Linked DNA regions of Homo sapiens. The protein of the gene in region 1 purifies or fractionates together with the protein of each later gene. This does not show direct contact. Each region holds a gene or a part of one and is shown in the gene's direction. Other genes may lie near its edges.

Evidence for each region.
Region 2: the proteins of UBR2 (region 1) and ALDH18A1 purify together in Homo sapiens (affinity purification with mass spectrometry; 2 studies listed by BioGRID and IntAct, with this or other methods). This does not show direct contact.
Region 3: the proteins of UBR2 (region 1) and PLXDC2 purify together in Homo sapiens (affinity purification with mass spectrometry; 4 studies listed by BioGRID and IntAct, with this or other methods). This does not show direct contact.
Region 4: the proteins of UBR2 (region 1) and PAM purify together in Homo sapiens (affinity purification with mass spectrometry; 4 studies listed by BioGRID and IntAct, with this or other methods). This does not show direct contact.

Annotation. Positions count from the first base shown.
Region 1 is NC_000006.12:42,685,379-42,693,169, forward strand, and holds part of UBR2 (E3 ubiquitin-protein ligase UBR2), read left to right. Parts: intron 1-2,837; coding exon 2,838-3,008; intron 3,009-3,608; coding exon of another isoform or gene 3,609-3,630; exon of another isoform or gene 3,631-4,171; intron 4,172-4,190; coding exon 4,191-4,292; intron 4,293-5,653; coding exon 5,654-5,795; 3' UTR 5,796-7,791. UniProt on the Homo sapiens protein: E3 ubiquitin-protein ligase which is a component of the N-end rule pathway.
Region 2 is NC_000010.11:95,611,165-95,618,955, reverse strand, and holds part of ALDH18A1 (delta-1-pyrroline-5-carboxylate synthase), read left to right. Parts: intron 1-2,341; coding exon 2,342-2,479; intron 2,480-4,794; coding exon 4,795-4,990; intron 4,991-5,092; coding exon 5,093-5,214; intron 5,215-7,513; coding exon 7,514-7,700; intron 7,701-7,791. UniProt on the Homo sapiens protein: Bifunctional enzyme that converts glutamate to glutamate 5-semialdehyde, an intermediate in the biosynthesis of proline, ornithine and arginine.
Region 3 is NC_000010.11:20,281,215-20,289,005, forward strand, and holds part of PLXDC2 (plexin domain-containing protein 2 isoform 1 precursor), read left to right. Parts: 3' UTR 1-7,791. UniProt on the Homo sapiens protein: May play a role in tumor angiogenesis.
Region 4 is NC_000005.10:103,002,835-103,010,625, forward strand, and holds part of PAM (peptidyl-glycine alpha-amidating monooxygenase isoform e preproprotein), read left to right. Parts: intron 1-198; coding exon 199-315; intron 316-2,319; coding exon 2,320-2,392; intron 2,393-3,966; coding exon 3,967-4,177; intron 4,178-4,622; coding exon 4,623-4,823; intron 4,824-6,916; coding exon 6,917-7,032; intron 7,033-7,791. UniProt on the Homo sapiens protein: Bifunctional enzyme that catalyzes amidation of the C-terminus of proteins. Alpha-amidation is present at the C-terminus of many endocrine hormones and neuropeptides and is required for their activity.

The DNA of each region.
Region 1 (7,791 bases):
CAGAATAAGACATGGAATGGGAGTAGGAGAAGCAAATTTGATTCATGAATGTTTAATAATTGCACTTAAAGTAATAACAGCCCTTAGTAATTTTTTTTTTTTTTTGAGACGAGTCTCGCTCTGTTGCCCAGGATGGAGTGCAGTGGTGCAACCTTGGCTCGCTGCAACCTCCGCCTCCCAGATGCTAGTGATTCTTGTACCTCAGCCTCCTGAGTAGCTGGGATTACAGGCATGCACCACAACGCCCAGCTAATTTTTTTTTTGTATTTTTAGTATCACCTCAGCCTCCCAAAGTGCTGGGATTACAGGCATGAGCCACTACACCCGGCAGTAATTTTTAATATAGTATCAAATATTTAACATACAAGCAGCATAAAGAATAATATAATAGGGGAGGCTGAGGTGGGAGTATCACTCGAGCCCAGGAGATGGAGGCTGCAGTTAGTCATGATCGTGCCACTGCACTCTAGCCTGGGTGACAGCGAGACCTTGTCTCAAAAAAAAAAAGAAGAATATAATAATGTAAGAGCTTAAACATTACCTAGACAGTTGAAGCTCCCCAGCTGTCTCTTCTCTGTTGCCTCTTTCTCCTCCCTCTGAAGATACCTACTATTCTAAATGGAATATTAAGCATTCCATTCCTATACATTAACTATATAAGTTTCTATTCTTGAGCAGCATGTATTGTTATTTTGTATGTTTTTTTTTTAATTAGTATTTATTGATCATTCTTGGGTGTTTCTCGGAGGGGGGGATTTGGCAGGGTCATAGGACAATAGTGGAGGGAAGGTCAGCAGATAAAGATGTGAACAAAGGTCTCTGGTTTTCCTAGGCAGAGGTCCCTGCGGCCTTCCGCAGTGTTTGTGTCCCTGGGTACTTGAGATTAGGGAGTGGTGATGACTCTTAACGAGCATGCTGCCTTCAAGCATCTGTTTAACAAAGCACATCTTGCACCGCCCTTAATCCATTTAACCCTTAGTGGACACAGCACATGTTTCAGAGAGCACGGGGTTGGGGGTAAGGTTATAGATTAACAGCATCCCAAGGCAGAAGAATTTTTCTTAGTACAGAACAAAATGGAGTCTCCTATGTCTACTTCTTTCTACACAGACACAGTAACAATCTGATCTCTCTTTCTTTTCCCCACATTTCCCCCTTTTCTATTCGACAAAACCGCCATCGTCATCACGGCCTGTTGTCAATGAGCTGTTGGTTGCACCTCCCAGATGGGGTGGCGGCCAGGTAGAGAGGCTCCTCACTTCCCAGACGGGGCAGCCGGGCAGAGGCGCCCCCCACCTCCCGGACGGGGCGGCTGGCCGGGTGGGAGCTGCCCCCCACCTCCCGGACGGGGCAGCTGGCCGGGTAGGGGCTGCCCCCCACCTCCCGGACTGGGCGGCTGCTGGGCGGAGACGCTCCTCACTTCCCAGACGGGGCGGCTGCCGGGCGGAGGGGCTCCTCACTTCTCAGACGGGGCAGCCGGTCGGAGACACTCCTCACCTCCCAGACAGGGTCGCGGCCGGGCAGAGGCGCTCCTCACATCCCAGACGGGGCGGCGGGGCAGAGGCGCTCCCCACATCCCAGACGATGGGCGGCCGGGCAGAGACGCTCCTCACTTCCTAGACGGGATGACGGCCAGGAAGAGGGGCTCCTCACTTCTCAGACTGGGCGGCCGGGCAGAGACGCTCGTCACTTCCTAGACGGGGTGGCGGCCGGGCAGAGGCTGCAATCTCCGCACTTTGGGAGGCCAAGGCAGGCGGCTGGGAGGTGGAGGTTGTAGCGAGCCGAGATCGCGCCACTGCACTCCAGCCTGGGCAACATTGAGCACTGAGTGAGCAAGACTCCCTCTGCAATCCTGGCACCTCGGGAGGCCGAGGCTGGCAGATCACTCGCCGTCAGGAGCTGGAGACCAGCCCGGCCAACACGGCGAAACCCCGTCTCCACCAAAAAATACAAAAACCAGTCAGGCGTGGCGGCGCGCGCCTGCAATCCCAGGCACTGGGCAGGCTGAGACAGGAGAATCAGGCAGGGAGGTTGCAGTGAGCCAAGATGGCGGCAGTACAGTCCAGCCTCGGCTCGGCATCAGAGGGAGACTGTGCAAAGGGGAGAGGGAGAGAAGAGAGGGAGAGGGAGAGCTGTATGTTGTATTTTATTTTATTTATTTATTTATTTATTTATTTATTGAGACAGGGTCTCACTCTGTTGCCCAGGCTGGAGTGCAGTGGTGTGATCTTGGCTCACAGCAACCTCCGCCTCCCAGGTTCAAGTGATTCTCCAGTCTCAGCCTCCAAAGTAGCTGGGACTACAGGTGCACACCACCATGCCTGGCTAATTTTTGTATTTTTAGTAGAGACGGGGTTTCACCATATTGGTCAGGCTGGTCTCAAACTCCTGACCTCAGTTGATCCACCCACCTTTGCCTCCCAAAGTGCTGGGATTACAGGCGTGAGCCACTGCACCCAGCCAATTTTGCATTCATTCAGCATTGTTTCTAAGATTTATCTGTATTGACGTTTATAACTTTATTGATTTTTCATTGCTCCATAGTATTTTATTATATGGCAGTGGTACCGTTTATCTTTTTCTCCTATTGATGATTTTATTTATTTTTTTTTCTCCAGTTACTGATTCTTTTGAGTGTTTCCAGTACATGGTCTTTGTATATATGTGCAAGATGTTTCCTATTCCAGATTCTAGGAATAAACTTGCATAGACTGTAGGATATACACTTCTTTGGCTTTACTTGATATTGCAGAATTCTTTTCTGGGCTGGTTTTTTCATCACTAGCTCTTTAGCCACTCTTTAGATCAATGACTTGTGGGTTTTTTATCCCTTGGAGGTGCCCGAAATCAGGTGGTGATAAGAGCAGAGCCCCAACTCTGTGCCTTGTGTGCGGATCTCTGCTGTGCTCCCAGAGTTACTGCTGCCAGACTGAACTGGAAGGGGAGGATGTAGGAGCCTGCACAGCTCACACCTACTCCTGTGGCTCTGGAGTGGGCATCTTCCTGAGGTAAGGACCTGCAGGGGCTTTTTAGCTTTGGATCTGCCTCAGTATCTGACTGTTAGGGTGTCACAGGAAACTACTATATTGCCAGGAATTTTGAGACTACTGTTCCGTGTGATTCATTCCAGAAACGTGGAGCTCCTTGTCGCCTCACATCTCACATCTGGTCCATGCCAACTCTGTGTTGGTTCTTTTATTGTTACCATTCCCACTCCTCTTCCCTCAACCATAGGTGACAGTTCTGTTCTACTTTCTCCATGTCTCCCACTAATGTGAAACTTCTCTGATTTTCTGAACAAATCCAGTCAGAATTACTCTTTCTGTTATGTCCTCATGGCTTTTGGATTTTACCTCCACTTATACATATTATCACAACTCTACATGCCAGCTTGTGATTAGTGACTACTATGTACCAGGCATTGAGGATGCAGTAGTCCACAGTGCAAAGATCTCTGCCCTTATGGATGGAGCTTGTTTTGTATGAGAGAGAGGACAAGCAAGACTGACAAGAATTTAGATAGTGATATAGGCTAAGGAGAAAAAATAAAGCAGGGAAGGGGAATATGAAATGGCAGCTATGGAGCTAAATTTGAGATTTAATTTTAGTAGATCAGGGAAGGCTTCCTAAGAACATGACTTCTGAGTAAAGACCTAAAGAAGTGGGAGAACATTCTACTCAGAACATTCTGCACAGTTCCTGGGGTAGAAATGTGCCTGTCTGCTCAAGGCAAGGAGGCGCGTGTCACTGGAGTGTTGTGCACAGGTGAGAGAATCCAGGGGCCTGCTGTGTGCTGGTGACATCTCTGGGCAAGGTGTAAGCCATTTCAGGGTTTGAAGCAGAGGCATGACATGAGTGTGGGCTCCTCTGGAGCATAGGTTGTATCCATAGCTTAGTCATCCCCCCAGTACCTTGATAATTTCTTATACGTATTAGGTCCTCAATAAATGTCTGTTTAATTGTGCTGTACTATTAATGCCAGAAAAAGGCAAATGTCTCAAAGGGATCAGGGGACACAAATTTGACTCGATTCAACCTATTTCCTAGTTTGTGCACAATTTTTTAATGGATAACTTCCTCCTAATAGTGGTTTAAATATCAGTACTATAAGACTTCATTCTATTTGGAACTGAATACAAATGTTGGTTACTAATGTGTAAATGTGTAACGTATGACTGATCTCTCTACAGAGTACGGGAATGTCAGGTGCTATTTTTAGCTGGCAAAACCAAAGGCTGTTTTTATTCTCCTCCTTACCTTGATGACTATGGGGAGACCGACCAGGGACTCAGGTAAGAACCCATCCTGAGTTAGCTAACTCAGGGCCTGCAGCGCCCTTCCGTATGTGGTGACGTCCTGAGGGTGGAGGGCTGAGGTGGTTCTGGAAGAGGTGGCTGTGTTATCTGTGGAGTCTTCCAAGGAGGGTGCCCTGTCAGCCTGGTTTGGTGTTCTTTTCCCAGCCTTCAGAATGCCATGAGGAACATCAGGATAGGTAAGGGAAGAGAATAGGACAGAGTGCAACTTTATTCCATTTATCACTCCAAAGAACTGTTTGAATTGCCATATAGCATCCCAGCTCAGAGCACTCCAGGGATGGCCCACTCTGACTTGTATGGCCTTGTATAGAGGAAGCCCAGTGTTTGAGAAAATCTTAATTGCTAACAAATGTGCTTATTACATTAAAATCTGGGGGACAAAGATTTAAAACATAAAGAACAATATAACAATATTTGAGGCTAAGTTACTTCTACTCTGGTAGCTTTAGTATATTGTAAGCTAACAATTCCCCCAAGCACTATTAAAGAACTTCTTTCAGACCATCTCTTTTGTCTAAAGGAGGTATAAGTTTTAACCGCCATAGATATGCCTGTCCAGCCTTAAGTAGCAGATGTTAAAGGCCTAGAAACCCAAGCAAGGTAAGTAGATGAGCTGCCCCAGGCGCTGGACTGCGAGGCTATGCCCATATGCCACCCAGTGCTGGTGCTTCCCACTGTTCTCAGCGTGGGCTGTTAGGAGGAGGAGAGTCTGATTAGTGAGTGAGAGGATGGCTGTGCTCAGAAACAGGAGCAGAGGTGCCTGGCTCAGGGCACTGGTCCCAGGCAGGAACCCACCAAAGCTTGCACTTGTGTTTAAATTAGACCTGGAAGTTACTCACATTTGATTGCTTCACTGAGACTGTGGCTGAAAGATTGCATCTGAGGAATGTTTTTCTTTTCTTTTCTTTTCTTTTTTCTTTGCACTCTTAGTAAAATCTGTGAGGAATATTTTTACTCCTATAATTCTTCTTTTGTGTTCTCCTCTGCCCTCTTCCCTTTTTACACGTTACCAACAAAATGGGCAATGAATTGGTAGTTTTAGCCTCTCAACCCAGACCCTCCTTATCCCCCGCAACCTCTATTCCCTCACCTCACTCTGGGTAAGTCTGGTTTGTGTACCTTTCCTTCCTCATTTCAGCACTTATTCCCTTTTACCTGCTCTTGGCAAAGGGTCAGAGCTGATGTTTTTGTTAATAGCCACAGTCACCTGCCAGACAGAAATGTTGCAGGGAGTCTAAAACCAATAACTTGTAACCTTGCCTAAATCAGGAAGGGTTGGGTTATAATAGAGGAATAAACAGAACACATTCTGAGTGACATGTGTCTTCTCTTTCTAGACGGGGAAATCCTTTACATTTATGCAAAGAGCGATTCAAGAAGATTCAGAAGCTCTGGCACCAACACAGTGTCACAGAGGAAATTGGACATGCACAGGAAGCCAATCAGACACTGGTTGGCATTGACTGGCAACATTTATAATTATTGCACCACCAAAAAACACAAACTTGGATTTTTTTAACCCAGTTGGCTTTTTAAGAAAGAAAGAAGTTCTGCTGAATTTGGAAATAAATTCTTTATTTAAACTTTCCTTCCCAGTTTTATAGTTTCTGGTTCTGAGGACTGATGAAAATCATCTTCCATCAGCAGATTTTCTTGCACTGTTTGCTGTGCCCCTCAAATATAATGTCTTGGGTTTTAAGATCGAGCAAGGAGCTTCTCTTCCTAGATTGGATCCCAGCCCCTTTGTGGGGGTCTGACTGCATAGTCCCAGCCATTATGTGATATTTCACGTTATTGATGATAGTGAACCGTGGGTCCGAAGCTGACTCAACGGAGGCAGGGAACAAAGTCTCTGTGGTCTGTTGGGTCATACTTCCTGGTTCCACTGAGTGGCCCAACACTGGGACTGGGTTGGTGTCCCCTCTGCTGACAGGACCCTACTCCTAGGAGCAAAGTGGTTGATTTTGAAGGCAGTGTTCCCTTCTCTCCATTGACTATGAGAGAGTTGGGGGACACACATGCAGAAGAAGCCCGTGGGGAGAAGGTGGATTCCTGGTGTGCTGGCTGGTTTTTCAGGGCTGTTAGAGGTTTTTTTTTTTTCTTTTTTTTTTTATGGCAAGACTTTTGGCTTTGAGAAAACTCACTTAGAGGGCTTTCCAAAAACTTAGGATGGTCTAAAAAATTAGGATATTCTTTTAGAATTAGGAAGAAAAATTAGGATATTCTAAAAGAATATGGATTAAAAATTTAGGATATTCTTTTAGATATCCTAATATCTAGATGAGAGGCCTTCCTTCATAAGATCTGGTTGTTTGGGCTGTGGTTGGCATAAGTGATATTTATTTTGGCCTCTGTCACATCCAGTTTCTTGAGCTTTTAAGGTAAGCTTCTTTTGGCTTTTTTTCAGATGTTCACCAAGCTTAAGTTTAAAATAATAGGTATTCTAAAAGAGTATCCTAATTTTCTTATCTGTATTCTTTTAGAATACCCTAATGTTTCAGACAGTGATATTCTCTTGTTATTTCTAAGGCTAAATTGGCAGAGTATATCATCTAAAGCCAAACACTGAAGAAGGTGAGAACCCACTCCCACCCAGCCAGCATTTCCTGGAACAGACAAGCTGCTGCTTCCTTGCTGGCTCACTTAGTGCATTCCTGGGATGGTCTGGCACCCAGGCTTTTTATTCTTTTTGATCATTGTTCTTACTGAGGTGCCTTCCTAGAACAAGAGCCACTTACAAAATAGCTTATAATTATTATGTACCACACAACTACTATTGTTTGATGTATGACTGCTGAGAGCTTGAATACATGCAGAGAGTGACTGAAGACTTAGTAGAGGAATAAATTCTGAGCCTGTCTAAGGTGGGGCTAAGGAACAGATGAGTAATAAGAGGCTCTTGGATTTTTTTAACCAATGCAACTGACCCTTTCAATCAGTTTTCTTTGAATTACATCTACAAGTTTTGTTCCACTCAGCTACCAGTCAACTAGGCATGCTCCACAGTATCACAGGAAGAAGGTCAGAAATCTGGAACTGAAGCTAAAAGAAGTGAGGATGTAGAAGCCACATTCCTCTCCAAGGTAGTGTGTGAAAGAACCGCCCCCTCTTGACAGGAGGATGACCGTCGCCATTCTTGCGTGGGACTGACTCACCCAGCTGAGAGGAGGACCAATAGAAAGAAAATTCACATTTGAGTCCACCTCTCTCCCCCTTTTTCTGGCCTTCATTCATAAGATCTGGTTGTTTGGGCTGTAGGTGGCATAATTCATGTTTATTTTGGCCTCTGTCACATCCAGTTTCTTTAGCTTTTAAGGTAAGCTTCTTTTGGCTTTTTTTCATATGTTCACCAAGCTAAAATTTAAAATAATAAGACCAGGTTTCTCTCTGTACAAGTGGATTATAAACATTTTCACCAAATCATAACAATACTCCAGCTTTCCGGTCCGACTTCCTAGGAGCCTGGAGTTAGCAA
Region 2 (7,791 bases), on another chromosome or scaffold:
GTATCCTAAAGTAGTTGTTCATATGTCCATTTTAGACCTGGAGAAACTGAACCTCATAGAAGGTAATATTCCTGTCACACCTGTAAGGTGCAACTGGGACTGGAACCCAAATCAACCTACCATACCACAGTGCAGGAGCAAATTTCCAAATATCTTAGCCTGTGGTTCACTTTGTTCTCTGACCACAAGTCTCTGTTAGCCTGCTGCTGTCATTCATGAATAACTGGCTTGGCCCATGTGAAAAGGACCCCTTTATTGTCAGTATCACTGATGGCTTCCTATAAGTACATCTGTTAGGAAAAAGAACTTTCAGTAGTTAATGGAAATTAGAATGCAACTGTCGGCCAGGCACAGTGGCTGACACCTGTAATCCCAGCACTTTGGGAGGCCCAGGCAGGTGAATCACGAGGTCAAGAGATTGAGACCATCCTGGCCAACATGGTGAAACCTTGTCTCTACTAAAAAATACAAAATTAGTTGGCATGGTGGGACCTGTAGTCCCAGCTACTCAGGAGGCTGAGACAGGGGAATCACTTGAACCCAGGAGGCAGAGGTTGCAGTGAGTCGAGATCGTGCCACTGCATTCCAGCCTTGCAACAGGGCGAGATACCATCTCAAAAAAGAGAAAAGAATGCAACCCTCTTTAAGCAAGTTGACATATCACAGCCTCTGGTTGAGAAAGCATGCGTTAAAGTTCTTGCCAAGCAGCCATGCTGGGAAATACAAGGTGTCATTAGAGAGTGGCCCCACTTTATTACCCTAAACTGCCTCCCAGAATTCTGGGAGCATTTCCCCCACTGGACTGTCCTATAGGATACCAGCTCTTCCTTTGCACTAGCCCCAAAGTCTCAAAGGGAAATTCTACTGTAAAAACAAAAAACTAGCACCTCTTTACTATAAGACATAGTTGACTGTGGAATCTGGAATGCTCTGTGAAGGGTACTCTCTGACATCCCCTAAAACCAGTGTGTTCACCAAGGGACTCCCATACCACTGAGGCCTATCCTCAGTCCCTGGCTGATGCTGGCACACTACCTCTCTGGCCACATACCTGTCTTGCAGAAATGCCCCAGTGATGACTGCCAGACTCACCTCTGCTAGTAGAAATGGGCCTAAGTCTCTCTGTGGACTGTATCCGTGAAATTTCTTTGCTACCACTCATCCATACCAGCTGATACCTCACAAGGAGCTGATACCTCATTAGCTAACTACAGCTAAGGCTCCTCATCTGGACTCAGCCCTGGATGGTTTCACAGAATCCATGAATCCTAAAAATTGTGTGCAATATTCTGTGTGTTTATGTCTGGAGAAAGTTTACTTAACTTTTGTAAGAGGTAGGATGATCAGGTCAGTGTCACTCACTCTTTGCTCTAACAAGGCAACTAGCCCTCCTCCTGGATGGTTTACGTTTTCCTCCCCAGACAGGCATGTGGGAAAAAGACTCTGTTCTCAGCAGTCTCTACCACAGCTGCCCAGGGGCTGGCAGGAGCTCTGGTCTTCTCCAGGTTCTTAGCACCAAGCACTTAGAGCTCTCAGAACAATTCCAAGGCCAGAGTAGGATGTGGCCAGAGGAGCTGCCCAGCCTCAGCCTGATCAGATGAAGCAAGTGCTTCCTTACAGAGGTGGCTGAAGACCCTGTTCTCCACGGTGGGGGGTGCCATGTGGCCCTGGCCACTTAACTCAGTTCTCTTTGCTTTATTTGTTTGTTTGCGACGGAGTCTCACTCTGTTGCCCAGGCTGGAGTGAAGTGGTGCAATCTCGGCTGACTGCAGCCTCCGCCTCCCAGGCTCAAGAAAGTCTCTTGCCTCAGCCTCCTGGGTAGCTGGGACTACAGGCACCTGCCACCATGCCCGGCTAATTTTTGTATTTATAGTAGAGATGGGGTTTCACCATGTTGGTCAGGCTGGTATCGAACTCCTGACCTCAGGTGATCCACCCACCTCAGCCTCCCAAATTGCTGAGATTACAGGCGTGAGCCACCATACCTGGCCAACTCAGTTCTCTTTGCTAATGGTGCTAAGGAAGCCATATAGTTTAGTTGCTAAAATCCAGTGGTTTGTTCTGGAGTCAAACCACCTCAGTCTGGCTCCCATCCCTGTTATTTATAAGCTGTGTGACTTCGGGGAGTCATCAGCCTCTCTGGGCTTCAGTGCCCTTATCTGTAAAGTAGGGGATAAAACAGGCACTTAATTCACTGCAGTGTTGTGAAGATGAAACAGCATAGGCCTTCTAAAATGATGAACACAGTGCTTAGCACAGAAGGAGTGCTTGTGAATGCTAACATCACTGTTGCTATTACTGTTTGTCTCCTTTGATCCACTGCTCTCCCTTTGATCTGCAGGTGGCAGCTTTGGCTATCGCAAGTGGCAATGGCTTGTTACTCAAAGGAGGGAAGGAGGCTGCACACAGCAACCGGATTCTCCACCTCCTGACCCAGGAGGCTCTCTCAATCCATGGAGTCAAGGAGGCCGTGCAACTGGTAGGTCCCTGGGAATGCACCAAGTCAGGCCCAGAGGGGCCAGATCAGGTGTTTGGGAATTTAAAGCAAAACTTAGGCCACACAGAGCCAAGACACTACTACAAGCAGACTTGACACTCCAGCAGGCCTGTGAGCCTTCAGACTTTAGGCCATTCTGCAGAGCCAGATGGGTCCTCAGTGGCTTAGGAAGGCCCCTCCCTTACAGCTGCGTCTTGGCACTATTTATTTACAAGAATGTCAATTAGACCTTCATTCTTTGGGTCACAAGGCAGCAGGAGTACCAGAACTAGAGTGTGAGGCCTAGGTTCCTGTCATTGGCAGAGTGATCTAGGGTAAGTCAGATGAGAAACTTTACAAAAGTTTGTCATAAACTGTCATGCGGTGTGTTGAGTATGAGATCATGCTGTTATCACTATTATTATTAAGGTCATCACTTTAACTGACCATTTCTCATTCTCCTCAACTGTCAAATGAAGTTTGATAATAATAGCTACTACTTGTTGAGTACCTACTATGTGCAAGGCTCATTTTATCCGTTAACTCATTTGATCGTCACAGCAGTCCCATAAGGAAAATATCATTAATTATTAGACTCATTTTCTACATTGGGAAAAAACAGATTCAGAGGTAAAGTAATTCCCCAAGAGTCACATGGTGTGTGATAGAGTTTAGATTTGGACCTAGGCTGACTCCAGATCCTTTTTTTTCTTTGGCTCATTTGCTCCAACATTCCAGGATTCTGTTGGCTACTGGGAGGATGTCTACAAACCTGCTCATTACACACTCAGTGACCAGAATCTGGTTTTTTTCTTATGCCCACATAGTGGTTGGAAAGAGCGCAGATTTTAGGGATTCAAATCCCAGCCCCACCACTTCCTAGCTTACACAGGTGCCCTCCCTCCTTTTCTTCCTATTGATGTGTAACATACGTACAGTAAAGTATACAGATCCTGTGAACCACTCTGCGACTGTTCACACACACACATGTATAACCACCAGCCGTATCAAGATACAGAACAGTCCAACATCCTGGAGGGCCCCCTTGTGCCCTTCCCAGTCAATATGTAGCCCCCTTCCCCACAAACTACTTTTTTGACTTCTGTCACATTAAATTACTTTTGCCTTTTTTTTTTTTTTTGAGACATGGTCTTGCTCTGTTGCCCAGACTGGAATTCAGTGGCACAATCTTGGCTCTCGGCTCACTGCAGCCTCAGCCTCCTAGGCTCAAGCAGTCCACCCACCTCAGCTTTCCTAGTAGTTGGGACTACAGGTGTGTGCCTCCAGACCTGACTAACTTTTGTGGATTTTTTGTTTTTTGTAGAGACAGGGTTTCACCATGTTGCCCAGGCTGCTCTCAAACTCCTGAGCTCAGGCAATCTGCCTGCCTCAGCCTCCCAAAGTGCTGGGAATGTGCCACCACGCCCTGCCTTTTGCCTATTCTTGAAATTTATATAAATGAGATCAAACAAAACACACGTTTATGTTGCCTGTCATTTGTTCGTTATGTCTGTGGCATTCATTCCCATTGTTGCATCTAGCAGTAGTTTTCTCATTTAATTGCTGGGTAGTGTTCCATTTACCTGCATATACTACAGTTCATCTTTTCTTCTCTTGATGAATATTTAGATTGTTTCCAGTTTTGGGCTATGTGGAATAAAGTTGCTGTGAACATTCTGGCACACATATATATTTGTTATAAAAGTAATATGACCATGTGGAGAAAAATTAAAAATCAAGAGAAAACAAAATGCCCATAATCTCAGTATCCTCTCACAGGCTCTTTAAGTCATTCTAATCCACATCCCAGGGTAGAAGTTGCCATCAGAAGTCATGAGAACCATGACTCCCTAGCAAGACCAACCCAACATTTCCTCAATGCTGTGAATAGAAAACCAACAGAGAAGCCACTCCCTTTTGTGATCTTCATGGCCTGGAGTAGTGTACTGCATTTAACCTCCATAGATACCCCTTTGTGCTGCTTCTGGCATTTTAAAAATTGTCTGCCCTGTATTATGGCTAGCAGTACCCTAGTGCTGCCTTCCCTACTTGATGCTGAGCTCTTTGACGGCATGCAGTGTCCTGCGTGATATGTGATGTGGAGCACAGCACCGAGTATATAGTGTTTGATAAGCATTTGCTGGACAACTTTTTGATTCCCATGATCGGGAACTTAATTTTGTTTTTAGAATAAGTTTTCACAGTGTCTCACTTAGTTCTCAGAGTGTACAGATGTTTATCTGTAAAAGGGAAGCTGCTGTTTTTATATTTTGTGTGGTCAGATGTCATCTTTATCTTTTTCTTCTTTCCTTCTAAAGGTGAATACCAGAGAAGAAGTTGAAGATCTTTGCCGCCTAGACAAAATGATAGATCTGATCATTCCACGTGGCTCTTCCCAGCTGGTCAGAGACATCCAGAAAGCTGCTAAGGGGATTCCAGTGATGGGGCACAGCGAAGGGATCTGTCACATGTATGTGGATTCCGAGGCCAGTGTTGATAAGGTCACCAGGCTAGGTGAGCTGGATGGGGTCTTCTCTTTCACAACGGAGAAATATTACATCCTCTGCAGCTCTGGATCATGTCAATGGAAACAATTCTTTGCTCATCTTCTTTCAGTCAGAGACTCTAAATGTGAATATCCAGCTGCCTGTAATGCTTTGGAGACTTTGTTAATCCACCGGGATCTGCTCAGGACACCATTATTTGACCAGATCATTGATATGCTGAGAGTGGAACAGGTAAGAGTTCCATAGGACTAGTACATTACTTCCTGTCTTAGAAGCCTGTGGAATTAGACCAGGCACAGCCATACCATATAAGGCAGTTTAAGAAACAATATTTTTTAATATCTTCTGTGTACAAAGTTCCATGCTAAGTAAAGTGTGAGTAAAACACAACCCCTGCCCTCTAGTAGTCGAACCAAACCAATACACAAATAGCTTTATTACAAAGTGGAATGTGTTGTGTGCTAAAGAGGGTTCAAAGGTAAGACAGACCACATGGCACTATGCTGACTGAACTGTTTCTGGCAACCTTATATATGCAAGGTGTTCCCAAGCATATATTATTTTTTGGATTTGATTTGAAAAGATGGTGCAGAAACGTTTCAAACCAAAAACTTATGTACATTCACTGCCTCCCCCCAGTGTCTTTGGTTACCAATATTAGTGTACTTAATGCAGTGATATTTGGGATTCAGTAATTTGTAGAATGTCTCCCTGGATTATGTTTTTACTATATTGTTAAGGTTGTAAACAAACCAAAAGCCAGTAAGTTTCAAATATAAAGTTGTGCTGTGTCCTAAATTCATGCCTGCAAGAAAATATAATAGATGCCCTCAAGGCAAAAATGGACAATCTGTTAAACTCTCTGCATGGATGCATTTTAAGCTTTAATTTCTGATGTCATAGTACACTTTCAGAGTTATATAAACCAGCATGGCAGTAGAGAAGGTGCTTGTTGGCCTTGGTTGCTTTGACTCTGAACATATGTCTCTTCCCTTCCATCCTTTGACTGGAAAGGAAGGCTCCAGTTAGCTTATAAATGTGGCATGGTCCCAGTGAGAACTGGAAAGAATTGTTTTAAAAATGAAACTGTACTCCATGGATTACAAGGAAGTTAGATCACATGGTCATTCATGTTCGGGGACCTTACTTTACTTTGGTAAGGAAGCCTGTTGATTGGGCACCTGTGTTTGCCAAGCACCACAGTGAACTGGATTAGACAGGAGGAAAGCTCTCCTTTAGCCAGGACTAAATCCCTCCCCAGACCTAATTTGAACACACAAGTGGTATCCTCAGTCATTAAAATGAGGATGGCCTTGAAATTCCAAATCAAAATGAGTCACTGTGTGTACTTCATACAGCACTTTTGGATGGCAGAAAGTAAAGCTAGAAGGATGACTTGCACAGGGATGGGGTTCCAGTCCCCAAGGAACACAGAAGAAGTGAGATCCCAGATAAGAAACAATGGCAGGGCCTCGGGAATCATGAGGATAAGGCAGACACCACTTATAACTTGAGCCAAGGCAAAAGCTTGATCCCAAAGAATCAAGGCATGAACCCTGTCCTGGGGATGTCTCAGAAAACAAGGTTTAAGTGGGATCCAGCTTGTGATTGGGATCCTCGGTGACCAGCCTCAGAATCCTTAAATTCCTCTAACCAGCAGCAGGATTAGAGCCAGAGCCTGGGGCTGAGCTGAACCTAGAGGTGGGGCCAGACTGACGCAGTTGGAAATCAAATGAGTAGCCACAGTTTCAGGTGCTGAAAGCACCTGACCAAGTACTGCTTACCTCTAAAGCAAACCTGGGACTTCGCTAGGGTACAGGGAGTAGCAATGTATATGTGGCACCTCCCTTTTTCCACACGAGTCTAGTGCCTAGGTACCATATGCAGGAACTGGGATCTTTATTGTCAAGTATTCATTTTAGGAAAATGCCAGAAGTCAAGCCCTTGTGTTGATAACCCACTAAACGCCTTGCACATTCTTTTTTATTCTTTTTTTTTTCTTTGAGACGGAGTCTTGCTCTGTGCCCCAGGCTGGAGTGCAGTGGCACAATCTTGGCTCACTGCAACCTCTGCCTTCCAGGTTCAAGCAGTTCTCCTCCTGCTTGAACCTCCCAAGTAGCTGAGATTACAGGCACCTGCCACCATGCCCTGCTAATTTTTTTAGTAAAGACGGGGTTTCACCATGTTGGCCAGGTTGGTTTTTGAACTCCTGACCTCAAGTTATCCACCCGTCTCAGCCTCCCAAAGTACTGGGATTACAGGCGTGAGCCACCATGCCCGGCCCACCTTGCACATCCTTAACGTTCAAGGCTTCCTGCTTCAATCCCTGTTCCAACTGTCTTGAGGGCCCATTGCTGGCAAGTGGCCAGTCAGATCATGCTGGAGGGAGGAAAGTAGGACTAGTTCAGTTGTTGAGGCTACAGGAGCCACTTTGGGCTGTGGTTTTACAGGCTCACCTTTCTGTTCTATCCTAGAACTTGCTTATTTCAGTTGTTTTTATGTTGTTGCCCCTGGACTTCCTCTGTTCCAGGTAAAAATTCATGCAGGCCCCAAATTTGCCTCCTATCTGACCTTCAGCCCCTCCGAAGTGAAGTCACTCCGAACTGAGTATGGGGACCTGGAATTATGCATTGAAGTAGTGGACAACGTTCAGGATGCCATTGACCACATCCACAAGTATGGCAGCTCCCACACGGATGTCATCGTCACAGAGGACGGTCAGTGTCCAGATGCTTCCCGCATACAGTGTCTGCCTTTGCTGCTTTCTGATCCTGCTCCTCTTAGCCCCCCTTGGGCTGCAGAAAAACA
Region 3 (7,791 bases), on another chromosome or scaffold:
TTGGAATCACAATCCTGATTTTGAAAATTCCTCATGAATGAAGAAAGGAATGGCATCCCTTGAGAAGGAAAGTGGTTAATATACATACTGAGCTCCTAAAGTTTAAATTCAGGTACTGAGTGTACAATTTCACCAACATTCTAACCCATGAAACTTTTACACTCTGTGCCAAGAAACTGTTGGCTTTTGTAAGGTACAGTGCTCAACATTTGCAGATTCAGGTCTCAAGAAGCAGAGATGTCTCATAAGCAGCATTTTCCCAACAGTTTAGCATCTGTACACATCTGCCTTGGTCATCAGTCCACTCACAGAGTACCATACTTTATCATCACAAGTGTCTGACGTGAACGAATGCCATTTTCTATTCCATATATTTTGCTTTACAATTTTAAGTATTTGATGAAGATGGTAACTTTTTCCTAACTTAGTTAACTATTAAAAAAAATTTTGAAAAGCAAGGTGATTGAAGGATTGTGATGACAATCTCTTTGCAGCAGCTATGTATGGTTTATGTGAAGTATCCCCACTTATTCTTGTGGAGCAGGTTTGGTGAGACAGCAATAACCAAATGACATGCCAATATTACTGGTGCAACTGGTATTCTACAAATGCATAAGGAACACATAGACGACTTCCTTTTAGGATAAAATGATGCTTCTTTCACTACCTTTTGTGGTAGCTGTGGCTTCCAATAGCAACTGTTTGACAGTTATATAAATCTTGCATGTGTATTCTTAGTTTGTGTCCCTTAAGTACTACTTAATTCTCAAGTAGTAATGTTATTCTTATACCCTTCAGCGTTCTATTTTGATTCAAAACAATTGATTCAAAACAATTTTGAATCAATTTTCTATTTTGATTCAAAACAATTGATAATTCTGTAAAAAAACATAAACACTGAATTCTTCAGTGAACCAAAGCAACAAATAATAGAGAAAACTTCTTGAAACTGGAGTGTGGGAAAACTTCTTAACAGAACTAAGAGTTAAAGGTAGTGAGAAGTGTGTGGTGTGTGAATTCTTTAGTGGTAAGGGGAAATGTGGGCTAAATCCTTTTCTTTCATGAAACTCTCATTCTATTTTATATTTCTGGTTTGTTCTTGTTCCCATGTGAGAAAACATACAGTTTCTGAAAATTCAAAATGGTCATCAATGCTTTGGACTTTACATAATTATGTATTAGAGAAGGTGCAACTGTACATTACTTAATATACTATGAACATAATAGAATAACAAAAAAAGATAACAAAGAGATGCAAACTTCTGGATAAATCAGATAAATGGTGCTACAGAGGAATTTAGTTATTTCAGCTTAATTATTTGTAAAAATAATAATCAGTGACTAGGTAAAGATACTGAAACTCAAGAAAAATATCTTGACCCATTTATGTCTAGTGTTCCATTATTGGAACGCTAAGCTTATGGGAGTTATTTAGAGCCTACTGCTCAAGGTCATCACCAAGGTCTGGTTGCAAAAATTCAAAAAATTGCAACCTCAGGCATAAATGGCTTAAGCCCAAGAGATGGCACTGACCATAAATGGTGGCTTGTGTGTGAAGGGTTTGGACTTCAAGATATACTAACACCTAGAAAACTAAAAGTGCAATTGACCCCCAATTACTATTTTAGTTTGAGGTATCAAGGGCATTTGCCAATCTCTTATATGTAGCTTCTAGAGTTGTGCTGTCCAATATTATATCCACTAGCCAACGTGGCTTTTGAAATTAAAATTAATTAAAATTAAATTAAAAATGTAATTCTTCAGTCACACCAGCCACATTTCAAAGGCTCAATAGCCACGCCTGGCTTGTGGCTACCATATTGGATAACAAGAAACACTTCCGTGGTTGAAGAAAATTTTAATGGACAATGCTGTGTTTCATTTGAATTCGTTGTCCTTGAAGAAAAGGGAAGAAGAGGAAAGAAACAAGATTTGGTAGCTCTTGGGCATATCCAAGCATTTTTGATTTTAGAGAGGCCCTATGGAGTAATGAAAAAAATACAAGCTGACACAGCTTTAAATCCCCACTGTGTTATCTTGGGAAAATCACTTCAACCTCCTTGAGTCTCAATTTGCAATTTTGGAAAAGAAAAACAATTTTTGTCCTGTCTTTCTTGCAAGATTATTATGCAACCTGATTAAATGTACAGATGTGCAGACTCTTAAAAACCTTATGTTAATGTAACCCATATAAAGTACGACTTTTGGTCGAGTACCAGCACAAATTTGCATTCAAAGGAAGAATAGTTCATCAGTGCAAAAAGCGTTCAAAGGTAATCAGTTCATCACGTATCTTGAGAAAAAGAGAATGCATTCAAAACACAAAGCAAAATTGCTTCAGTTTCTTTTCTGCCCATCTGAATATTTCCTTTAGTATTTGTCCCACATGACATCCATCCCATGTATTTATCCACTCTTTCACAACATTGCCTATGAACATCCTTCAACTGGCTCAGTTCTTTATTGCATAGAGCCACTTAGCTTCTCTAGTTTCTTATGATTTCCTATTTTACACTTAACAGCAAAAGGAGGCTTCCATTTAGAAGGCACTATCTCAAACATAAATAATTTCATATTTATTTTATCACTGTAACACTAAGGAGCTATGGCATTAAAATATAAAACTATTTGGAACTTAATGTAAACCTTTGCACATGCAGACTATATAAAGGGAATAAAATTATTTTAAATTATGCTAATATCCAGATACATATTCTAAGGTTAGTATCATTTATCAGTTTTTCGCAACAGATTCTTATGTTACATCTTCATGAGGGAGTATAAATTTGATCACGTCCCTAGTGTCTATTGCCCACTTGAGAAAGGTTTTGCCAGGATCCACAGATCGCTTCAAGATGCTTTCGTTTATGATAGGAAATTAATATTTAAATAAGACTAATTGAAAACTAGATTATCTGGTTCTAATTTCTTCCTCCTGTGAAATGTTCTTTTGGTTTGTATTTCTTTAGGTATTTTCCAAGTTACTGCTGCTTTTACTTCACGACCTCCAACCCCACTTTTGTTATCAGCGTCATATGCCAGAGTCATGGCAGATCCAGCCTGGACAACATAGTGAGACCCATCTCTATCAAATATACATATATATATATATATATACACACACACACACACACACACAAATATACATATATATCAAATATATATGTATATTTGATAGAGATGATAGCAATTATGTGTGTGTGTGTGTGTGTGTGTGTGTGTGTGTTAGCCAAGTGTGGTTTCTCATGCCTGTAGTCCCAGCTACTTTGGAGGCTGAAGTGTAAGAGTTGCTTGAGCCCATGAGTTAGAGGCTGCTGTGAGCTATGATCATGCCACTGCACTCCAGCCTGGGCAACAGAGCAAAACCCCATCTCTAAATAAAAAAAAAGAATCGTGAGACATCATGTAATCCAACCTCTTAATGTTACAGATAAGTAAACTGAGGCCCAAAGAGATATAGTAATAGTCCCAGTGTCAGTAAACTGGGTCTTGAACTTAAATGTTTGTTTCAGTTCTCATTGCCTTCATCTCTTAATTGTCGGCACTTAAGGCCAACCAAGCAGCTTAGACAGCGCAGTCCACTCAACGGTAACTTTATTTGCTATATTGACAATCTGCTCTGTTCTGTAATATAGAACATTGGATCAATCTTTATCTTTTTGCTGACTTAAGGAGGCTGCTATTGTTGCAATATCCAGAGATTTCAAGTTCTAGCCATTGCGGGGTCTTTGTGGTGTTTTCAATTTCTCCTCTCTCCACCCCTGCCCCCATCTGTGGCCATCTAAGTTAGCAATACAATTTATTTTGGCCATTTAAAATTTTTCTGCCTTTGTTTTATTTCTTCCCAAATATATTTGAAAATGAATGATCTATATAGCTGATTTTCTGACCACATATATAATTGCAATTTTTATTTGCTCTTCAAACTATTACAACATTTTTGTCCTTATAAGGTTTTTTGGGCAGATAATGCGAGGTCTGTGGTGTTACCTTTTATATACTCCTATTACCTTATGTTTGTGAAGCATTTTACATTTTACAGAGCACTTTGATTCATCTCCCTATTTGTTCATTTATTTAACTGTTCAGTTCACTGAAATATTTATTGAACACCTACTGGAACCAAGTGACTGTGCTAGTAACTTGTGATATACAGTAGTGAGAGTCCAGGCATGTAACCGATCATTATAATACAATAACATCCCTAAACCAGACTTTACAAGTAGATAGGATCAACAATACTCTATCAATTTTCAACTCCAATTTTCTATTCTACTTAAAATGGGAACTAGAAACTGTTTGCCTGAAGAATGTGTCTGAAACATAATATATCACTGCATGTCTGTGCTGTAGACCTGTTAATTTTATCTGTGAGAAAAAAAGTTACTCAAAATTCTCCCTGACCTAAGAATACTTTCTAGTTCACTGCAGTCTTACTGACCAGATGCAACAGTTGAAGTTTGATTTCTCGACCCAATATTTCTATTGGGTTTTGAATTATTAATATCACTGTTTTGAGGTATTCAGAAACACCAGTGTATCAAAAAAGCATTTGCACTTTAGGTGTGTGTGGTGGTTATGTCATTTATTAGACCATCCCAGACATAAGACAATCAGGGAAATCAGAAAACTCCAGCCTCAAATGTGTCTATAATTTCCTGTTCTACCATTGTCATATCATAACATGGTATTACTTCTTAAGGTTTTGATTAAGTTGATCTAGCCTCAACTTAAATTGTAATACATCTGCCTAATTATTGTCTGGAATAACTTTTCAACCATCCAATGCCCACTGCTCTCACAATGATTATTGTAGAGAAGTAAAATGGTAATTATTCAAGTAAAGTCACATAATTTCTGGAGTCAGTTTTTCATAACAAGTTTATGGAATACATCATCATTGGCTTCTTCATAATATATTTATTATGAGTGACCAAATTTTGCCTGGAGGAGCAAAATGCTCAAAACTTGTTATTATAGGTTAATTTCCAGCTCACTGTTGACACTGAAAGATTCTGTGTTACTTTAAACCCAGGATAAAAGGCTGGAAAAAAAATTAAATGTAAGTCATAAACTAGTACTCAGCTTTTCCTAGTTTCTAAGGCTTATTAACATTTGCAAATTACTCAATAAATGTCTTTCATAATGGAATAACATAAAAGCTTTTGATTTGGCAGATAGTGATATTTTATTTATTTTCATTCTGGTTGAAAAAAATCTCAGTGGCTTCTCTTCATTCCACGAGAATTTTGATTTTTAACAGCAGTCTCTCTTTTTCTCAGCATTGCAAATATATATGTATATATACATTCATGACCAAAGTATCGCTTACTGACCATGCAGCTGTAAACCTTCTGTGCCTATCAAACAAATACATAGCATGAAACTAATTTTAGAAGTTTCATGGGGGAATTTTAGGGGAAAGTATAAACCTAAGAGTGAGTGAATGGAGATGATTCATGGAAAAAAAAATAAAAATCTAAATGTGCTATTAGGCAGAGTTATTAACTTCTTTTAGTTGTTGTTTGAGATGGGGTTTTGCTCTTGTTACCCAGGCTGGAGTGCAATGGCGTGATCTCGTCTCACTGCAACCTCCGCCTCCCAGGTTCAAGCGATTCTCCTGCCTCAGCCGCCCAAGTAGCTGGGATTACAGGCATATGCCACTACAGCCGGCTAATTTTGTATTTTTAGTAGAGACGGGGTTTCTCCATGCTGGTCAGGCTGGTCCCCAGCTCCCGACCTCAGGTGATCCGCCCACCTCCGCCTCCCAAAGTGCTGGAATTACAGGCCTGAGCCACCGTGCCTGGCCGAGTTATTAACTTCTTAAGAGCAATGTGCTAATAAATACTCATTGATGACCAGCTCAAATTTAGGTCATTCAGACATCCAGACACTGGGGCACATATTCTGCAAGCAATGCTGAGACCCCTGACATAGAGAAAGCAAAGGATATGCCTATGATTAGTCTAAAATGCAGCCATCACCCCCCATACCTCTTCTATGGCATTCATCCTAACATCATGGAGGCCTTTGTCCTAGAGAATTATGTGACTTGCCCTAGAGAATTAGTGAATGACCAAAAAGAGACTTTCCATTTATCTTCCTTTGACTTAAAAGGCATGAAAATAAGGCAAAAAAATCAATAAAATAATTTTCCTGAGGAAAGGTTAAGAGATGGCACTTTCCTTTCCGGGCCCAGAGCTGGATTTCTCTGAGATTTGACCATCTCAGGACTCAGACAGACTCCAGTGCTATTTTCTGGACATTTGTGGTGAAGCCTCAGCCACCATGTTCAAGGTGGTTTGAATGAAAACATACTCAGATTGTCACATTTATAGCAGGGAAATAAAAACTCAAATTAGGCATCCTGCAGCAGGCTACTCTGAAAATAACATTAGGCAACATCAGAGCTTCACTTGCAAAGAAATGTTAAAATCATTTTAGGGAAATCAGTGAAGTCTCTTTAGAAACAGACATCTTGTGTATGGCGTAACCCAGTCTTGGGGCCCTCACGGAGAAGAGGGGGAAGTCTTTTCATTGATTGGTCAAAACAAATCTCTCATTTGCCTGATTTGAAGCATTTCAACAGTGCCTGGAGAGTACATTATTTTCAGGGGAAAAAAAGGAGAGAGTCTTTTTTATATGCCAGCTGGGATCATGGGAACTTCGAATGCCAGGAATTTACTACTGTTTCTGGTAATTCTGTGTGTAGTCATTTGAAATGTTGAAGTGTGAAAAGAGAAGAAATTGGGCACTTCTTGCGGCGGGGGAGGGGGGGGGGGCGGTGGCTTTCCAGATTTTATGCCAGTTGCACCAGCATGCAGAATATTTGTAATGCATTTCAAAGTGGATATAATGGCACCCTTTGTCAGAATCACAAAGCTCACTGCGGCACTGCTACAAGAGGACACTGAGGAAAATCTGGCCCTATGAACCTAGTCAACCCCAAGCAAAAAGAATGACTATGTGTGTGAGTGCAGCACATGGCCAGTTCGTTTCTCACTGTTTTGGAAAGCCCTGTGTGCCAAACCAAGGACGTGTCTTTCAGGGAAAGGTTAATTTTCCGAAGTTTATTAAAATAGAACTTGGAAAACCAAGCATTTTGAATTTATTCCAGTCCTCTGGGCATCATTCCTATTTCTTCTGCCATGTCAAGGAGAAATTCCAAGCCTGCATTCTGTCATGCTAAAATAACCAGCCCATACTTCTCGGTGACCTTCTGTTGAACGTACCTGAGCCTGCAAATGTAAAAATGATTGTATCTGAATCTGCACTAATGGTGTCTGAGAGCAAAAAGAGTGTGACCTCTATTGGAAACCTTTGTTCAAATTCAATAATTCAGAGATGCTACATACTTCTGCAAGCTTCCTGATTATGTTCACTGTAATATTAATGACCTAAGTTTGAATGTATTTCCTTACAGTCCATTAATTTGACATCCATCTTTTACCTGGGGATTATTACAATTGCAATAAGTCATTAATGTTTTCTTCACACAGCTTCTTAAACCAAGTTTCTCTGCAGCTCTTTCGGTTCTGCTTACAGTGTGTGGGAAATCTGATTTTTTTCCCCTAGTAATAGTTTGATAAGAAATTTAGTGTATTGACTGCCTCAGTGACACAATTTATCTTTAAAGGTGTGGAAGCTGGTGGGGACCAAATGTTACCTGTGTTTTTGCTGTTGATTGCTATTTTCAGAAGCAAACCATGTTTTTCACTTACAGTAGGAGTCAACAAATTTGGGATTTTAGAAGGGGGAGGAGGGAGCTATTTGTGTAAGACTGCTGTCATA
Region 4 (7,791 bases), on another chromosome or scaffold:
CACTGACCACCCTGAGTAGCATGGTTCTACAGGTTAATGGGGTATATTATAATCCAAATGACTGAAATGTGGCAGACAAAGAGTGAAGTCAAATACATTTGAGCTCTTTTGATTTTGTATTTATGTGAATGGTCTGCATTTCTCAATTTCATTGGAATTTATGATTGTTTCATGTCCTATTTAATGCTTTTTGTTTAGCTCGTTTGACAGCAAGTTTGTTTACCAGCAAATAGGACTCGGACCAATTGAAGAAGACACTATTCTTGTCATAGATCCAAATAATGCTGCAGTACTCCAGTCCAGTGGAAAAAATCTGTGAGTTAAATGACTTATGTTGTTAAGACTTGTACTACATATATTGAGTATAAAGTGTATCATAGAGTCTTGAAATTCGAGTGTTTTGTATAACTGCACTTGAGAAAGCAGAAAACTAACTGGGCCATCCCATCTTTCATTTTCTACATAGGTGTTTCTAAATCTTGACTGAATATTAGAATCATCTGGGAAGCTTCAAAATATTTAGATTCACTTATCTGTTTGCCATTTGTATGTTTTCTTCTGAGAACTGTCTGTTCAGGTCCTTGCCTATTTCATAATTGCTAAATGAGTATATTTGGAATGTTCTCACCTCAAAAATGTTAGGTATTTGAGGTGATGGATATGTTCATTAGCTTGATTTAATCTCTCCACATTGTATACATATGTCATAACATCACATTGTACCCCATAAATGTATACAATTAAAATTTGTCAATTTGTCCTTTAAAAAATTAGATTTAGATTCTGTATAGAGTGGGGCTAATAATCTTAAGTTCCCAGGTGATTTTAATATGTAGTCAAGCTTGTTACATATTACATATGTAATATATATCTTACATACTTGATTAAGTGAGTTGCTGCTCAGCCAGATCTAATGATCCAAAAAAATTCTTCAGCAGAAAAATTCTTCAGGACAACCAAACTCATCAAGTAATCACCATTAAGTAAAAGAGCTTCTCTTTTTCCGTCTCAAAGTGAATACTAAACAAATGTCATTTTTAGCATTCCTTATCATGCGTATGTAATTTGGCTTTGAAAACTGCTCATTATTTAGTCTTATTTCGAGATGGCACTTGGCAGCCAAAAAAAAAAAAAAGTTGACTGATATTTATGGTCATTGAAAGAAGTGAGGGAGGCACTTGCTTACAGATCTCCTGAACCATTGTAACTTGACAGCTTCAGGAATTATACCCTTCTCCATCTGCTTAAGCACAGGGAAAGCTAGCTTCTTCGCAAGGTGGATAGCCACCGTTTTGAGTGCAGCTGCTTGGGAGATGATAATAATGATGCTTAGAATTTTTTAACAGCATTCTCAAGATTGTGTGTCAGGGGTGAAATGTTTGAACCTGTTTCATTGGTGCTCTATTTATTCACCAGAAGCACCCTCATTCCAGAAAGGAATTAAGGGGAAGGCAGAAAAACTACTGCTAAATCAACTTGGCCATCGGTGGAGTATCTGTTTGAAAGCAAATCATAATCCTCACATTCAGTTGTCAAAACAGGGATCTAGTTCAGCTAATTAGTCAAAATCAGAGTGTTACAGTTATGGCTTATGAAAAAAAATCTGTATTGTCAACACTACACTAAGATTAGAAGCTAACAGAGCTATTGGATTGTCGGATATCATTGGACCAAACCACCTCAATGTATTGTCCATGTGTCTGTTAGCTCAGTCCAGGTTCCTTACCTAGATCATTAAGATTGATTTGCCAGATTAACCTTCTCTAATGTTTATCTAGCTCACTATTTCACTTTGCTTAGATATTCACAGCCCATGTTGGCTGGAGGTTATGTGCTGTGGGTTTTACTGTCTTTAATAGGCACTCTTTAAAGCCTTTGAGTTATATGTCTAATAGTTTATATTAACACATTACATTTCCTTGCAACATGTTTTAACCGCAAACTATATCAATCCATTTATGTTTCTTAAGTCAGTTTTATACATATTTGTAAGATGTTAACACTTATGACCTCAGAACCTGTTTTTAAACTGATACTGTTTTCTCTAATATACCATACTTTATAATAAACATTTGTAATTTATATGTAGGCTTAATTTATAAATTTTAATACTATTAAATACTACCTAAGGTTTGTCACAAGGAGATCTCATTATAACAGTTTTTATTAACTATTCATTTTGTTCTTTTCTATAATAATGCAAGTATACATTTATCAATTTATAACTTTGCATTGTCTTTACAGATTAATTAGAAAAATTTCTGTCACATATGCCTTGAGAGTAAATGTGTAATTAACACAAATATTTTTATTTTGCAGGTTTTACTTGCCACATGGCTTGAGTATAGATAAAGATGGGAATTATTGGGTCACAGACGTGGCTCTCCATCAGGTAGTCTTCCTTTTGGTAATATTCAAATTAGAAGCTAACAGAGTTATGCTTTTGAAGAGCTCTGGAGTTGTATGGGTTTTTTGTTTGTTTGTTTTTTCTTCTGTCACCCAGTAAGTTATAACAAGAAAATAGAGCAGCCATGTCTTAGTTCAGCATGTTATAACAAAGTACTATAGTCTGGGTGGCTTATACACAACAGAAATTTGTTTCTCACAGGTCTGGAGTCTGGAATTCAAGAACAGGGTGCCAGCATGGTTGAGTTCTAGTGAGGGCCCTCTTCTGGGTTATAGGCTGCTAATTTCTCATAGTATCCTTGCATGGCCAGAGAGATAAGAGTGACAGTAATCTCTGTTATCTCTTCTTATGGCACTAATCCCATTCATGAGAACTCTACCCTTTTGTCCTGATTACCTCCCAAAGGCCCTGCTTCATATTACCATCATATTGGGGGTTAGGATTTCAACATGTGAATTTGGATTTGAGGCACAAACATTCAGTCCATAACAATCCACATCTGAAATATTTCTCTTAGAACTCAATGCTAGGGAAAGCTAGTATGTAAATGATGAAGTCACATTTGTCCCTTGGACCAGATATGAAGCTTCACTCAAATAACTACATGGGCCCTCCCAACCATTTTCTTAACTGTCTGTATTTGCCTTTATTTCCTCTGTTCCTAACTTGTTGTTGTTGTTGTTGTTGTTGTTGCTGTTGTTGTTGTTGTTTGAGACAGGGTCTCACTCTGTCCCTCAGGCTGGAATGCAGTGGCACGATCTTGGCTCACTACAGCCTCCACCTCCCAGGCTGAGGTGATCCTCCCACCTTAGCCTCCCAAGTAGCTGGGACCACAGTCACACACCAGCATACTTGGCTAATTTTTTTAAATTTTTTGTAGAGATGGGATTTTGCCAGGTTGCCCAGGCTGGTCTTGAATTCCTGGACTCATGCAATCCACCTACCTCAGCCTTGCAAAGTGCTGTAATTAACAGGTGTGGCCATCGTGTCTGGGCCTAAGTCTTATTTCTATTTTTTTACTTATTTTTTTATGTTTTTTTCTTAAACTACCTTAATCTTCTATAAATTGAGGCTAGGCCTCTAGTAAATGTATATTTATATATAAAAAGTGAAATTTGTGTTATTTTTAAAAGAAGTTATATCAAGCGTAATATGCTTTTCATGAATAGGTGGCAAATAACTTGGAAAACATCATCTCAGTAAACATTTATTGCTCATGTATTATCTGGAGTGCATTGTAGTATTATCTAAGGAAAGACAAAAAGGAAACATCAGGGTGGACAGAACTGGGTATCCATGTACTAGTCTCCATTCACTACTAATTAACCGCGTGACCTTGAGCAAATCATTTAATCTTCATAGGCTTTATTATCAAATGAAGGAACCAGACCAGATGATTTCTAGGATCCCGTTCAGTTCTAACAAGTATTAATACCTTCTTTTAAATAAGTCTCTGGGAGCTTCTACTCCAATTGCTTGTGAAAGTGGTCTTAGTCATGTGGGTGTAAGTCACTAATAACCATGAAAAGTAGGTAAGGCTTTTGTTCCTTTTTAAAAAGGTGTTCAAACTGGATCCAAACAATAAAGAAGGCCCTGTATTAATCCTGGGAAGGAGCATGCAACCAGGCAGTGACCAGAATCACTTCTGTCAACCCACTGATGTGGCTGTGGATCCAGGCACTGGAGCCATTTATGTATCAGATGGTTACTGCAACAGCAGGATTGTGCAGTTTTCACCAAGTGGAAAGTTCATCACACAGTGGGGAGAAGGTACCCAATAAGACTCTTAATCTCCAGTTGTAATTCTTAGCCAGTATCACTGGGAACTAAATATTGGCCAACACTCACATTCTTTAAGCTGTAATTGTCCCCTACAGGGTCATTGTAACCTGGGTCATTGTATGCATCCAGTTAGCTTGTCTCTCACACACACACACACACACATATACATACACACACACACACACACACACACACACACGTCTTGTAAGGAAAATAATGTATCCACCAAACAACTATCCAAATAGGGAGAAAATCTGTAATGTATTTGTGGATAAAAGACATTATAAAATAATCTTATAAACTGCTTTACCTTATCTTTCCCCTGGCTCCAGGCATTTAATGGTTTACTATCATGAATTTAGAAACATACTAGAGAGTCAAACTTTGGGTGATTTTTAACATTGTGTATCTAAGGCTTTTTTTTGTTCTGCAGAGTCTTCAGGGAGCAGTCCTCTGCCAGGCCAGTTCACTGTTCCTCACAGCTTGGCTCTTGTGCCTCTTTTGGGCCAATTATGTGTGGCAGACCGGGAAAATGGTCGGATCCAGTGTTTTAAAACTGACACCAAAGAATTTGTGAGAGAGATTAAGCATTCATCATTTGGAAGAAATGTATTTGCAATTTCATATATACCAGGTATTTCATCTTAATATGTTTGTTGTCTTCTGTCCTACTGTACTCTATCCTTAAAAATTGTGTTATCTTAATGTGCTCTTTTTATAAATTTTCTTTGCTATATATTTCACATCTTAAAAGTATCTTACAACTGTTAGTGTGTTCTAACTCAGTTTTGATTAAGGTACCACTATTCATTGTACAGAAACAATGAAGAACTCAAAGGATTTAACACCTGTTTGTAAGGGGTTAAAAATGTTCCCAAACATTGATTTTCATTTTATCTTAATTATGATCATCTGCTCCAGTATTAAATAATTAATATTTGTCTTCACACATCGACAAATGGTATATGTCTGATAAAATCAGTATTCAAAATACTCATTTCACATTTTTAAAAACAGTAGTGACCAATTTTTTTAAAGATAAAATATGTAAAAATAAGTGTGGCTTATGCCTAAATACCAGGATAAATAATCAATAAAATCTTGAACTTTTTTCTCATTTTCAAAATAGATTTTCTTGACTCTAAGAAAATCTGAAAAATAATTCAGACTAATAAAATACATATAACTTATATTACAAAACAACTTACCATATTTTCTTTAAATAATGAAAATATATTTAATTTCTGAAATTTACATACAATTACAATTTTTTTAAATTGTAATTGACATAGTAATTGTATATATTTGTAGAGTACAATGTGATATTTTGATGTATGTTTACAATGTGGAATGACTAAGTAAGGCTAATTAGCAAACCCATCACCTCACATACTTATGTTTTATGGTGAAAACATTTAAAATATGCTCTTTTCACAATGAAGTGAAATGAGATCAATAACGAGGAATTTTTGAAAAATTCACAATTAAAGGGCACAACATATTTTAATAAAAACATCTATACCTGTATTAAAGCAGCATTGACTATTTATAGGTATTACTGTAATATTTATGTTTCTTATAAGTTGCATATGGCTACTATCTGGACCAAGCAGCCCCCCAAATTATTTAGGACATAAAATCAAGGGACTCAGGTGATTGATAGAGAGCAAATTTGGCTTCCTCAAGGAATAAAGAAAAAGTAATAAGAGGTTCTCACAACTATCATTCTTTAGGTTGGTTTGCCGCACATTTAAAGAAAAATTTGTCAGGACCCTTTACTTAATTAAGAGGGTGATCAAGTTCATAATAAACAAAAATAAATTAAATATAAGAAGAAAATTATCAGTTGAGAAGGAATATGGTTAAGAACAGAATCTAAGCAAAAGATAATTTTCTCTATAATTTTGCACAATAGTAATTGATGTTTATAGTGTTTTTTATAGTACATCCTAGAAAACTATAATCCTTCAAGAATGATGAAAATATCTTCAATGGTGGCTTAGCATTGTGTATAATTTATTATGTTTTAATTCTTTGAAAATGTAGTGGTTCAATCATCTGAATTGTTTATTTAACGTAAACATCACCATTTTCATTGTTCTGAATAAACAGTATTGTGTTAAGAAATATAATTTTACTACAAAAAGTATTCATGGTGTGAAAATTAAAAAGATGGTCTTTTTTAATTAAGGAAAATATGTCTTTGATAATCTGAAATATACATCTCACATTTTCAAATTCTAGTTGTTTAAAATCAGATTGTTCTATATAGACTGTAACTTCACTTATTTTCTTTGATTTTCTCTTGGATTCTCCATGTAGCTATGGCAAATATTACTTATTTTTTAAAAGATCTGAGACTCCAAAATTATTGGCCTAAATAACCTGACTTTCCCCAATTCCTATTTAGGATGCCTGTAATAGCTATATATGTGTATTATATCTATATATCAATATCTATGTATTTCTGATTTCTACTGGTTTTCCAAGTGGACCACACATTTCAGTTCCCGATTTTCCTGTCACAAGGAGGTTAGTCCTCTAACCAGTTTGCCACTGATCTGGTTACTCAGGAGGAGACACTAAGTATTTTATATTCTACTTTTGTTGCCAATTGTAGGGACCAGGTTGACCCTAAATTTATTCTTTGCATAATATACATGGATATATTAGAAGTCCATTCTTACCCATATTTTAAAGAAAGGTTAACTGGATTTGCTGTTGCAGGCTTGCTCTTTGCAGTGAATGGGAAGCCTCATTTTGGGGACCAAGAACCTGTACAAGGATTTGTGATGAACTTTTCCAATGGGGAAATTATAGACATCTTCAAGCCAGTGCGCAAGGTATTTACACACATTGTCTAGGTTTCAATTTTCATGAGAAGAAGACTAAAATATAAATCTTGGCATTCAATCTGTACTTGAATAGCTTTAGAAAAACTTTTAAGAAGATGTGATAACTTTCTTAGCAAGGTTGATGGGAGTGTTCTATTTTATTTTTTATTTTATATTTTATTTAGAATAAATGTCTTTGTCTATTCCTAGATCAATTTCTTCAGATGCAAATTAGCACGTGTGCAGTTCTAAGGTTCTTAGTAGAACTGCACCTGCATATGATGGCAGGTTTTTAAATTCACTATAGTTAGAATACAAAAAATAAATCAGTCGCTTTCTGGTTTCATCCAAGTAGAGAAAACATCACAACATGTTAAGTGTACTCTTAAAGTTCTCTTAGACCCAACAGACATCTTGTTTGCTTTCTTTATTGCTATGACTGTGCTAAGCAACAAGACTTGAAAATAGCACTTCCTGGAATTTATTCAAGTTCTAAAGATTTGGTTAAGAAACTAAAAGCTACTTTTGGCTTCAAAAGTGTTTTCCCACTGTTTATTCTAACGTGCTTTTTATAAACACAGCAACTGTGTTCAGTGTGCCCATGGCCCTTCTGTCTTCTCAGTGTACTTACTCTGCAGTATGATTGCCAGAGTGATCAGAATGTTCTCTACACTGTATGAATGTGCTTGGAGTATATGAAATTTAGAAAATTCAGCCTGCTAAAATGCTACAAATAAGTGTTATTCTTCAAAACATGTAAAGATTCAT